2 separate regions of the Homo sapiens genome follow, and region 2 is linked to region 1. The links come from fine-mapping of genetic effects on gene expression. A gene starts in region 1. The other region holds a variant in brackets. All regions are shown on one strand. Distances are from middle to middle.

Region 1 (5,369 bases):
CCTCTGCTGTTTCTGGGGCAAGAGAGGGCAGAAGAAAGTTGTCAGGGGCTGGATTCTTGTGCTTGAAAGACTTGGGTCCTCAGAGAGGGAAGATGAGGAAGCCAGAGAAACTTGAGTATTTCCAACCACCCAGTAGATTCCCCCGACGCAGGCGCAGAGACACTCGGTCCCCAGGGTCCAAGGGCAGTAGCACAGAGCTGGTGGCTGCCTCCCGGGTCACGTCAGGATCATTGGCAAAGGCTGAGATGACAGGCCACGTGTTCAGCATCAGGCTCACCTGGGGAGGGGAGCCCAGTTAGCCCCCATTCCCCAGCCCTTAGCTCAGGACCCCCCACTTTCCCAGGAGCTTCCTCTTGGGAAGCTGGGTTTTAATGGGCTCTCCCGGGAGGGCTGAGGGGCGGCCAGCATTGGACTCTGCACATCCTCCACACTCAATGCAAGGCAGGCCCATTCCTCCCCTGGTCCTGGCCTCCAGGACACAGGTCAATGGAGAGTCCACCCGGAGGTCAGCTGGGCTCCCCTTCTTCCCCCTCCCCACCCTCCTGAGCCGGGGATGGGGGCCAGTGCTGAGGTCACCTGGACAGTTTGGCGGTTGTACACCTTCACCACATGGAACCGGAAGCTGTAGACACCCCGGACAGGGGCTACGAAGGAGCCAGAGGCCCGGTCAAAGCCACCGCCCTCGTTCACCAGGACCTGGGGGAAGCAGAGCCTGCTGAGTGGGGCTCAGGAAATGCCCATGGCTCAGGGGTACCATGGGGACTAGGGGCAGGGGCAGTGAGTAATGAATAGAAGGAGTGGCAAGTAGGAGTGAATAGGAGTGAACAGATTCAAAAGAAATGGTGAGAAGGGGCAAGGAGAGGGCTGCGTATGGGTGGAGGGAGGGGAAACCGTCGGTGGGGTGGTGGGGCAATAGGCCAGATTAGTGAAAGATGTAGGAAGCTGTTTTCTTAAAGCCTCAGAGACAGCAAAGTGGGCTTGGACAGTTGCTTCCAGGTCCTTGCAGGGTCTTTCCAGGTCCCCTGGACAGGGGTAGGGGGATTACCTGGTCGAAGTAGATGGCCCCACTGGTGCCATTGCCGGTTTCCCCTGCTGGCTCATGGTGGTGGCTTCGGACCGCAGCAAATGCCACTCGCCCAGGGGGTGCCTCTCCCAGGGCTGCTCCCCCGGGCCCCCCTGCAGCAGCTCGGCCAGGCTCACAGACCACCAGGCACTCCCCCTCCAGCAGGACGGGCTCTGACCCCTCCTGGGCCCACCCGGCCCCCAGGGCCAGAAGCACCAGAACCAAGGGCAGCCCGGGACTGTGTAGGGGACCTGGTAGCCAGTGTGGCTTGGCTCCCAACATGGCTGAGGGGCTCTGCAACCCACAAGTGCCCCGGTCTTCTGCCCCTCTTCTGTTTCCGCTCCTCTCCCTGGATTCTCACCGCCGGCACCCTGATCGTCTGCCCTCTCTAGGCTCGCTGAACCCCCTCTCCATACCTGTGTCCCAGCTCTGTCCTGCCTCCCACTCTTACTCCTGCTGTCACTGCAGTTCCCTCCTCCTTGGCAGAGCATGCAGTGACAGCAGTTGGGCTTTGGGAGAGAAAGGAGGGATGAAGCCGCCTGCCCACTGGACGGGAGGGCTGCAGCCAGAGCTTCAGGGCAGCCCTGCTGGATGGGACAGCACTGAGGGCTGGACCTGGGGGGATGGAGAACATGGTATGTGTGTGTGACGGGTGTGACAGAATGTGTGAGTGTGTGCATATGCCAGAGGCAGCCCCTCAACCCCTTCCTCCTACTCTTCCTCTCTTCAAAATCCCCCACAAATCAACAGCCCTTCTTCGTGGCATCTTTCCGTTTGTTGGAAGAAAGGGGTACTCCACCACGGGTACCCTCCGCCTCCCGCCTCCCGCCTACCCCCTCCGCCACGATTGCTTTGGTGGAAAGTGCTTGGGCCTAGAGCACCAGTGGGCCAGTCACGCTGCCTCTTTGGTCGGCCACATCTTTATTCGCGGGAAACAACTTTCAACGCATGGTTCCCCTTTCCGAGAAGTAACTGCGCAGAATGCGCGAGGACCCTGAGGGCCGGGAGACAGACGGGAGGGCTGGTGAGAAGCGCAAGGGGCGAGCCCTGGAGCCGCCGAGGGGACTAGGCCGAGCGGGCCCGTCGGGGCCTCTGGGCGCGGCGGCGGGGTTGGGAGGAGGGCGCGCAGCCGGGAGGAGCTGGGCTGACTCCGCCCCAGGCCAGGAAGTGACTCAAGAAACAGTTTGCGTGCGATGTGGACAAGAGAGGTCCCCGCTGGGTGAGGAACCCGGGAAGGCCCGCCCAGATTCGGGCCCCCTGCCCTTGTCCCCTGGGCTGGGGGCGCGGGCAAAGCGGGGGCCTGGCGGGCGCTGAGAGGACCTGAAGCCGGCGCGGGCGGCGGAGGCGGTAGGCGCGCCCCTCCACCGCGCCCGGGAGCGGGGAGCGGGGGCCGCGGTGCGGAGTAGGCCCGGCCCGGGGTGGCTGCCCCAGTCCGCGGTGGGCGGGCCCGGCCCGGCCCGGCCCCTGGGCCCTGGGCGGTGCTCCTGGCCCGACGGAGAGGGGCAGCGGACGGCTGGGGGAGGGGTGGGAGTGGCTTGAACCTTGGAAATGGCAGACCAGGGCCCCCAGAGGACAGCCTAGTTCAATCCCCTGCTGAGGATTCGTCCTTAAGAAGCTTCAGAGTGCCCCAGGAGACTCCTTCTGGCCTCCAGGCCGAGCTGGAGCCCCCCCACCCTTCTTGCTCCGGACTGTGGTCATCCTTTTCCAAAGCCCAGACGCCCACTCTCGATAGACAGCCTTGTTTACCGGGACTTCCTCTCCGGAGAGGCCTGCGTGACATACACCCTCCCTACCTCCAGTGGACTCAGATGCTTGTCACCTCCTGGGGCTGTTTACCAGAGCCTTAACTAGGTGCGACCTGTTGATAGCTGGTGTAGTCCCAGGAACCAGGATTTGGATGGAGGGTACAATGAGGCTCTGAGCTGCCTTCTCCCCTTCCAGGGCTGGGGGCAGCAGCCATGCCTACCTGGGGGGCCCGCCCCGCGTCCCCAGATCGCTTTGCGGTGTCTGCGGAGGCTGAGAACAAGGTTCGGGAACAGCAGCCCCATGTGGAGCGCATCTTCAGCGTGGGGGTGAGCGTCCTTCCGAAGGACTGTCCGGACAACCCCCACATCTGGCTGCAGCTGGAGGGCCCCAAGGAAAACGCCAGCAGAGCCAAGGTGAACGCCTTCTCTCCCCCATCCCTCCAGGCACCAAGGACGCTTTCCCCCAGGGCGGAGGAGAGCAGGGCCGAGGAGAGCAGGGAAGAGGAGGGGCCTGGGGAGGATCTCCACTTCTTGGTTGTCTCACTGGCAACCTCAGTGCCCCTGAGTTTTGAGGGACTTTCCAACTCTATATTTGTTTTCAGTTTCAGCTTAATTTCTTCTGTGATGGCCCAGGCTGGCAAAAATCATTCTGTGCTCTTTGGGAGAATAGAGATATCTGGCTGAACAAGTTGGCCCCACCAAGGAATGCACTGTGGGGTGGGAGGCTGGGCCACATTGCTTCCTTTGGGATTAGGCTGGGGTTCCAGGATGGCTCAATCATGTACCAGCTTTGTGATGGGAGTCTCAGTTTCCTTATCTCTAAAATGGGAATAACATCATGTGGATACTCCAGACATCCTGGAGCTCAGGAGCGAGCAAGGAGCCAGGAGGGGTGATCTGGGCCAGTTAGTTTACTTTTCCTGACCTTCCCTTCCTCCCAACCAGGAGTACCTGAAGGGCCTCTGCAGCCCAGAACTGCAGGATGAAATCCACTACCCGCCCAAACTGCACTGCATCTTTCTGGGAGCCCAGGGCTTCTTCCTTGACTGCCTGGCCTGGAGCACGTCAGCCCATCTGGTGCCCAGGGCGCCAGGCTCACTGATGATCAGTGGCCTGACTGAAGCCTTTGTCATGGCTCAGAGCCGGGTAGAAGAGCTGGCAGAGCGGCTGAGCTGGGACTTCACGCCAGGACCATCTTCCGGAGCCTCTCAGTGTACTGGAGTGCTGAGAGACTTCTCTGCCCTGCTGCAGTCCCCGGGGGATGCCCATAGAGAGGCTCTGTTGCAGTTGCCCCTGGCTGTCCAGGAGGAGCTGCTGAGTCTGGTGCAGGAGGCGTCTAGTGGGCAGGGGCCAGGAGCACTGGCTTCTTGGGAGGGGCGGAGCTCAGCCTTGCTGGGTGCTCAGTGCCAAGGAGTGAGAGCTCCCCCTAGTGACGGCAGGGAGTCCCTGGACACTGGATCTATGGGACCCGGAGATTGCAGGGGAGCAAGGGGAGACACTTACGCTGTGGAGAAGGAGGGAGGGAAACAGGGTGGTCCCAGGGAGATGGATTGGGGGTGGAAGGAGTTGCCTGGGGAAGAGGCGTGGGAGAGAGAAGTGGCCCTCAGGCCACAGTCAGTGGGTGGAGGGGCAAGGGAGTCAGCACCCCTGAAAGGGAAGGCCCTGGGGAAGGAGGAGATAGCTCTGGGAGGAGGAGGGTTCTGTGTCCACCGTGAGCCTCCCGGTGCCCATGGCTCCTGTCACAGGGCAGCTCAGTCCCGAGGAGCCTCCCTCCTCCAGCGGCTCCACAATGGGAATGCCTCTCCTCCGAGGGTGCCCAGCCCTCCACCTGCACCGGAACCCCCATGGCACTGTGGAGACCGGGGTGACTGCGGAGACCGGGGAGACGTGGGGGACAGGGGAGACAAGCAGCAGGGCATGGCACGGGGTCGGGGGCCTCAATGGAAACGAGGCGCCCGAGGGGGCAACTTGGTGACTGGCACACAGCGTTTCAAGGAGGCCCTGCAGGATCCTTTCACCCTGTGCCTTGCCAATGTGCCTGGCCAGCCAGACCTCCGCCATATTGTCATTGACGGCAGCAACGTGGCCATGGTGTGAGTACCTGGTGGGGCTAAGGGCCTAGGAGAGGGAGGATATGTCCTGAGGGGCTGGCATTGTAGCCAGGGTGCCAAGCCCCTCCTCTGGCCGACCCCCTCCCACTACAGGCATGGCCTCCAGCACTACTTCTCCAGCCGGGGCATTGCCATTGCTGTGCAGTACTTCTGGGACCGTGGTCACCGTGACATAACTGTCTTTGTGCCTCAGTGGCGCTTCAGTAAGGATGCCAAAGTCAGAGGTGAGTTGGGCCTGGTCTTCAGTGTCCCAGGATAGGCTCTGTTTCCACTTTGAGGAGAACCCTATTATGTTCTTTTTCAATAGAGAGTCACTTCCTGCAAAAGCTGTATTCCCTCAGCCTGCTCTCCCTCACACCCTCACGAGTCATGGATGGCAAGAGGATCTCCTCCTATGATGACAGGTACTTGCTCCTCTCCTGGCCCCAGGCTTGATATTGAAGGAGCCCT
Region 2 (5,369 bases), 30 kb after region 1:
AGCCAGTTTCTTTCCTACCCTCTGATTTATAAAACAAATTCCATGCTTGGTCTTCTCTCAACAAAACCCTTGCTCTTGAATTTCCTCCTTTCCAGGCTATTAGTTAGATATGGAATAAAACAACTTGCTTTTGAGAGTCAAAACTAAGGCTTGTCGGATTTGTTCCCTTACACTGCAGAGGGAAAAGGAAGTACTGAGAGGGAAAATACGTTGGGTAATATTGCAAAGCAAACTGGCTTTATACATGGCTAGATCCAGGTGCTTACATAATGTCATCAAGGATCCACATCTTTTTAATTCTCAGCTCTTATTTTTTGTTGGTTGACTTCATTCTCAGGAAGATTTTCTCCCTTTAGAGTGAGAATGAATTCTTGGCTTCTATTTCCAGCAGAGTAACTATTTCTCTTAATTCCATAAAGAATGTCAGAACTGACTCTTCTTGGACTGTTATGGGTCTCGTGCCATCTCTGAACCAACTATTGTGGCCAAGTATGGAGTTTTCTGCCTGGCCAGGCCTGAGTCGTGTGTCTACTGCTGGACCAGGGGTGGGGTAGCCCCACTCACTGTCCTCCACTGTGGAAACCCAGCTGAGCCCCTGAGGTGTTAAGGAACTCCTCCTCTCTTCAACAACGTTGACATTCCTTCCTTTCTCTCCTGGCTATGTCTTTCCTTCCAGTGAGCTGGGAGTTGTGCTGTAGAAGGTGAGAGGTGAGTGGGAGGGTTCCACTAAATTACATGCCTTTTAGAGTATAGATTTAAGAGGGTGGATGTCCATCAATATCCTCAAGGAGGTGAGATGGAAACCTCCTGCAGAGCTTTACACCCCTTGCGAAGAGGAGGTACATAGGGACAGAGCTCCCATTGCAGCAGCCAGCCCCTCATCTCCAGGGAGGCTGATGGAGAGCAGGCTCTGTCTGAATGTGTTCAGCTTTCCATCCAACCTCCTTAAAGCTGTCGTTCTTCTGGGTTCTGGGGATGGGTGGGTCAACTTCTCTCATCCTCCTCAGCCTCTCCTTTAGCAACTGAACTATTTTAGTTAAACTTTTTGCAGCTCTCAGAGTCCATCTGACACTTTGGAGGTTAAAACATTCAAACCTTAGACAACAAGACATGAGAAATTTTCATCTGCACATCTGGGCTTAGGGGCAAGTGCAGCTGGCTTTCCCTTTGGGAAGAAAAGGCTTCCTCCTGGGTCTGCAGCAATCACAAGTACTTTGAAATGGGACTGTTTTCCTCACAGCTGCTTCCTGAAACAACAAAAGGAGCTGAGCTCAGTCAACCTCTGGGGCATCAGGCCAGCCCTGCGGGGCAGGATAAAAAGTCAGAGAAGGATCCTGGCTGCTTCTTCAGCTTGGGCCAAGGCAGAGTGGGATGGGGGATTTGCTGGTGACAAGTGCCTCTGCCCCTTCCCAATGCCACCTGTGTGAATGTTCCCTGCTTCATTTTGTTGGAATAGATTTTTGTGACTTCTCTCAGGCTCTGAGATGTTACTTGCCAAATGCTATTCACATAACCATTTTACATATTTCTGTTACTGTATGGTAGAACCAATCAACTAACCAATTAATCGACCAACCAACCAAAATCCTAATTCTGGAGACACATTGGATAAAGGATCCTAGAAATCTCCCTTCCTTTTTATAAGATAGTCTGCTCTGACCTCAGGGTCTGGGGCCACAGGAACAGCATTCCTGAACCTCGATGTCTGTGGAGATGCCAGGTCTTCTCCAGGGGCTGCACCTTGTCTTCTTCTTTTTCCCTTCCACTAAGACTTTTAGATGCCCCCATCCCTAGTCTGACCCCTAACCAGACATCTGTTCCCAGTGGGACCTTTTGTAGGAGCTGAGAGACCTGGCCAGCCTCCAGCATCAGCTCCGTACCCTCCGTTGTTGGCCAGGACCTGCTGTGGAGAACAAGTGCCCTTGAGGTCTCTCTGCTCTTAGTTTCCAGGGCAGTGAATGAGAAATGCCCTCTTACATACTCTGACAGTGCTGGGGAGAGAAAGCTAAATAGATAGATAGATAGATAGATAGATAGATAGATAGATAATGATGTTAGTCTTTGGCCAGGCTGGACCTGAGAGGAACTGTTTAGCATGAGCAGCTCTTCTTGCACCACCAGAGGCTTCACCAGCCCAGCAATTCCATTTCCTACTCACTCAGAGGAAGGGCTACTGGCTGCAGTCTCTTGCCACTGTCTGGCTCTGTGCTGTAAAATGGCCACTGGGAGGCTTCTCCTGGGTCTGTTTTCCCCTGGCCCCAGCACAGGCCCTTCTGAAATTAATCTATGGAGAATGTATTTCTCCATCTCCACTGTGGCTGTGGCCCTTTCCCTACAGTCTACTCAGCCCCACATGAGTTGGGGGTAGTGGGAGGCTGGGCTCTGGGGAAGGGACCCAGGGAGATATGAGCAGGTGCTTGCAGGGAAGGTCAGCTTTCTCCAGCTCCTTTCTCATGG[T/C]AGACACTCAATTACAGGGCCTCCCAGGTGCTGGATAGCTCTGTGCTGGCAGAATGCTACTTCTCACACCCCTCCGCACAGCAGAGATGATGAGGGCTGGGCCTGATTTTCTCCCTGCACTCTGATATAATAAAGTTGTTGTCACTAGGACCTATTAAATCAGGCACTCATGGTAGTAAATGTGGAGATCAGGCAGCTTGGAAATCCTCAGGCACATGTGCATGTGGATGCGTGTGTGTGTCATGAAGACACAGGATAAAGTCTGTTGTCTGTGGCCCTGGGGGATTGAGGCAGTGATCACCAGAGCTGGCTTTATCTTTGCGTTCATGCGTCTTCTACCCACTCAGCTCACATTTCGTTATACCATTCAGCAGTTGGCAACCTGAGGGGTTCCTAGGGAGGGAGATGTAGGCTAGTCCATCTTCTCCTCCATGGATCAACATAGGCCAGACCCAGCTACAGGAGGCTGGACCACAACCAGCATGAAATTTTTGCTGAGTTTAGACAGAAGGTCACTACGTCACTGAGGTATCTCATTGAATACTTGATTAGATAGAGAAGGAGATGATGGAGAAGAAAGAAAGATGACAGGAGAGGATAAGGGGGTGGCCATGACAACAGAGGAAGAGAGAGGACTCAGAGGTTGTCCCCAAGGCTTAGACTCTAAATAATTAAGAGACAGCCCTGGGCTCAGTATCCAGGTTAGATCTGTGTAGGATCCCTGGGGCACTGAAGTTGAGGATGTAACTAGTGGCTTGAAGGTGGAGTTGAGAGGTTCAGGGTGCCTGGTGTGGATTGTGGGGATGAAGGTTACAACCAGGACCTTTTATGGACTGTTCACAGGACTCCACATCCAGGCAAAGGCCAGAGTATTGATTCTTAGATGAAATGCTGTTACACAGCATGGGGACTTCACTTTTTTGAGACTGAAGAACTTTGAGGGGAAATAAAATCTCTGAAGAGAAGCTAGGTTCCATCTACAGAGGTAGCATGGCTTAGTGCCTCTCATCCATTCTGTTGAAACAGCTCTTGTCAGTGACCTCTATGTTGCTAAATTCATTGATCTCAGATCACCACATACTTTGCCTCTCTGCAACATTTGTTTCAGTGGAAACACTTTCTTCACTGGTTTCCAGGACATGATTTGTCCTCCTCTTACCTCATTAGCCACAGCTCAGTCCCCTTGGCTGGCTTTGACTGTCACCTGATCTCTAAACATTGGCATACTGCAATCTTTGTCTTTGGGCCTCTTCTCCATGTAGGCTCACTCCTTAGTATGAATCTCAGGTTTTTGAATAGTGTCTAATGAATCCCAAGTTTCTGACTCCAGCCTGAATATTTTTCCTGAATTCTAGGCTTAAATATCAAACTACCTACCCAATGTTTGTATGTGGATGACTAATAGCCATCTAAACTTAACACACCCCATACCATTCTCTTGATTTCCATGGCCCCAAACTTGTTCCTTTGCTGGTTCTCCCAGTCTCAGCAAATGGCAGTGTAGTTTTCCCATTTGCTCAGGTCAAAATAAAAAACTTGGAGTCATCATTAACTCCCCCTGATCCATGAGCAGGAATGGTTGGATTTATCTCTAAAAGAAATCCATACATGCAATAAACCCATAATTAGGTATCTCACCATGTTCACTACAGCTACCATCTGGTACAAGTTAATGGCATCTTTGTCTGGATCATCATAAGGGCCTCCTTACTGGTTTTTCTGCCCTAACTCTTGCTCCCTTAGAATTTATTGTTCACTTGGTAGACGGAGCGATCCCTATAAAAACTTAAATCAATCATGCCACTCCTCTGCTCAAAGTCTTCCAATGGATTCTGGTTTCAGAATAAAAGCCAAAGATCTTATAAGATCTCAGGGGACCCTTGAGACCCCCAGTGATTTTGTCCTCACTTGTCTATATGACCTCACCTCCTGCCTGTCCTGCCCAAGTCACACTGGCTTCTCAGTATAGCGTGACAAACTTGCTTCTGCCCAGGGCCTTTTTGCTATTCCCCTGCTTGAAATGCCATGCCTCCAAATAGCCACATGGCTCTCCCAGACCTCACTTCCTTCAGGTCTCTAATCAAATGTCTTATTAGACATTATTGACCAGCATATTTAAAATCGGTTTTCTTCCTCACCTTTGGAACTTTGTTTTTCCTTCATCCTGTCTTATGTTTCATACCACTTATTATCGTCTGATGTATTGTGTATTTACTTGTTTGTTTGTTACCTGTCTCTTCTCACTAGAATGCAAACTCCACAAGAGCAGAGATTTTATTATTATTATTATTATTATACTTTAAGTTTTAGGGTACATGTGCACAATGTGCAGGTTAGGTACATATGTATACATGTGCCATGCTGGTGTGCTGCACCCATTAACTCGTCATTTAGCATTAGGTATATCTCCTAATGCTATCCCTCCCCCCACTCCCCACCCCACAACAGTCCCCAGAGTGTGATGTTCCCCTTCCTGTGTCCATGTGTTGTCATTGTTCAATTCCCACCTATGCGCGAGAACATGCGGTGTTTGGTTTTTTGTCCTTGCGATAGTTTACTGAGAATGATGATTTCCAATTTCATCCATGTCCCTACAAAGGACATGAACTCATCATTTTTTATGGCTGCATAGTATTCCATGGTGTATATGTGCCACATTTTCTTAATCCAGTCTATCATTGTTGCACATTTGGGTTGGTTCCAAGTCTTTGCTATTGTGAATAGTGCTGCAATAAACATATGTGTGCATGTGTCAGAGCAGAGATTTTATCTGCTTTGTTCACTCTTCACCCCAGAATTTTGGAGAGTACCTTCATTTTGTAGATGCTCAATTAGTATTTTTTGAGTAAATGAAAGAATGGTGGTTGAGAGTGCAGGTCCTGGAAAAAGATTCCCTGAGTTCAAAGTCCAGA

What was found. PIP is the estimated chance that this variant, and not a neighbour inherited with it, causes the effect. A credible set is the group of variants that fine-mapping cannot tell apart.
Region 2: its variant is the best candidate, but not a certain one, in a credible set for the expression of KHNYN in whole blood (TOPMed, PIP 0.74).

What each region holds. Positions count from the first base shown.
Region 1 is chr14:24,427,710-24,433,078 of GRCh38, forward strand. It overlaps KHNYN (KH and NYN domain containing), which reads left to right and starts at 2,245. Exons shown (of 8, transcript NM_015299.3): 1 at 2,245-2,410; 2 at 3,005-3,222; 3 at 3,754-4,901; 4 at 5,013-5,143; 5 at 5,227-5,323. The coding sequence starts at 3,022. CBLN3 (cerebellin 3 precursor) reads right to left here and starts at 1,959. Exons shown (of 3, transcript NM_001039771.3): 1 at 1,046-1,959; 2 at 577-696; 3 at 1-277. The coding sequence starts at 1,345. The coding sequence ends at 80. RefSeq lists a silencer at 2,082-2,621 and enhancers at 2,652-2,831, 2,976-3,539, 3,392-3,501, 3,540-4,101, 4,102-4,663.
Region 2 is chr14:24,457,655-24,463,023 of GRCh38, forward strand. The region is part of intron 2 of LOC101927045 (a long non-coding RNA gene); the gene reads left to right. Among named protein-coding and RNA genes, the nearest start is that of SDR39U1, 18 kb to the left of the region's middle. The variant T/C (reference allele first, on the strand shown) is at 2,458.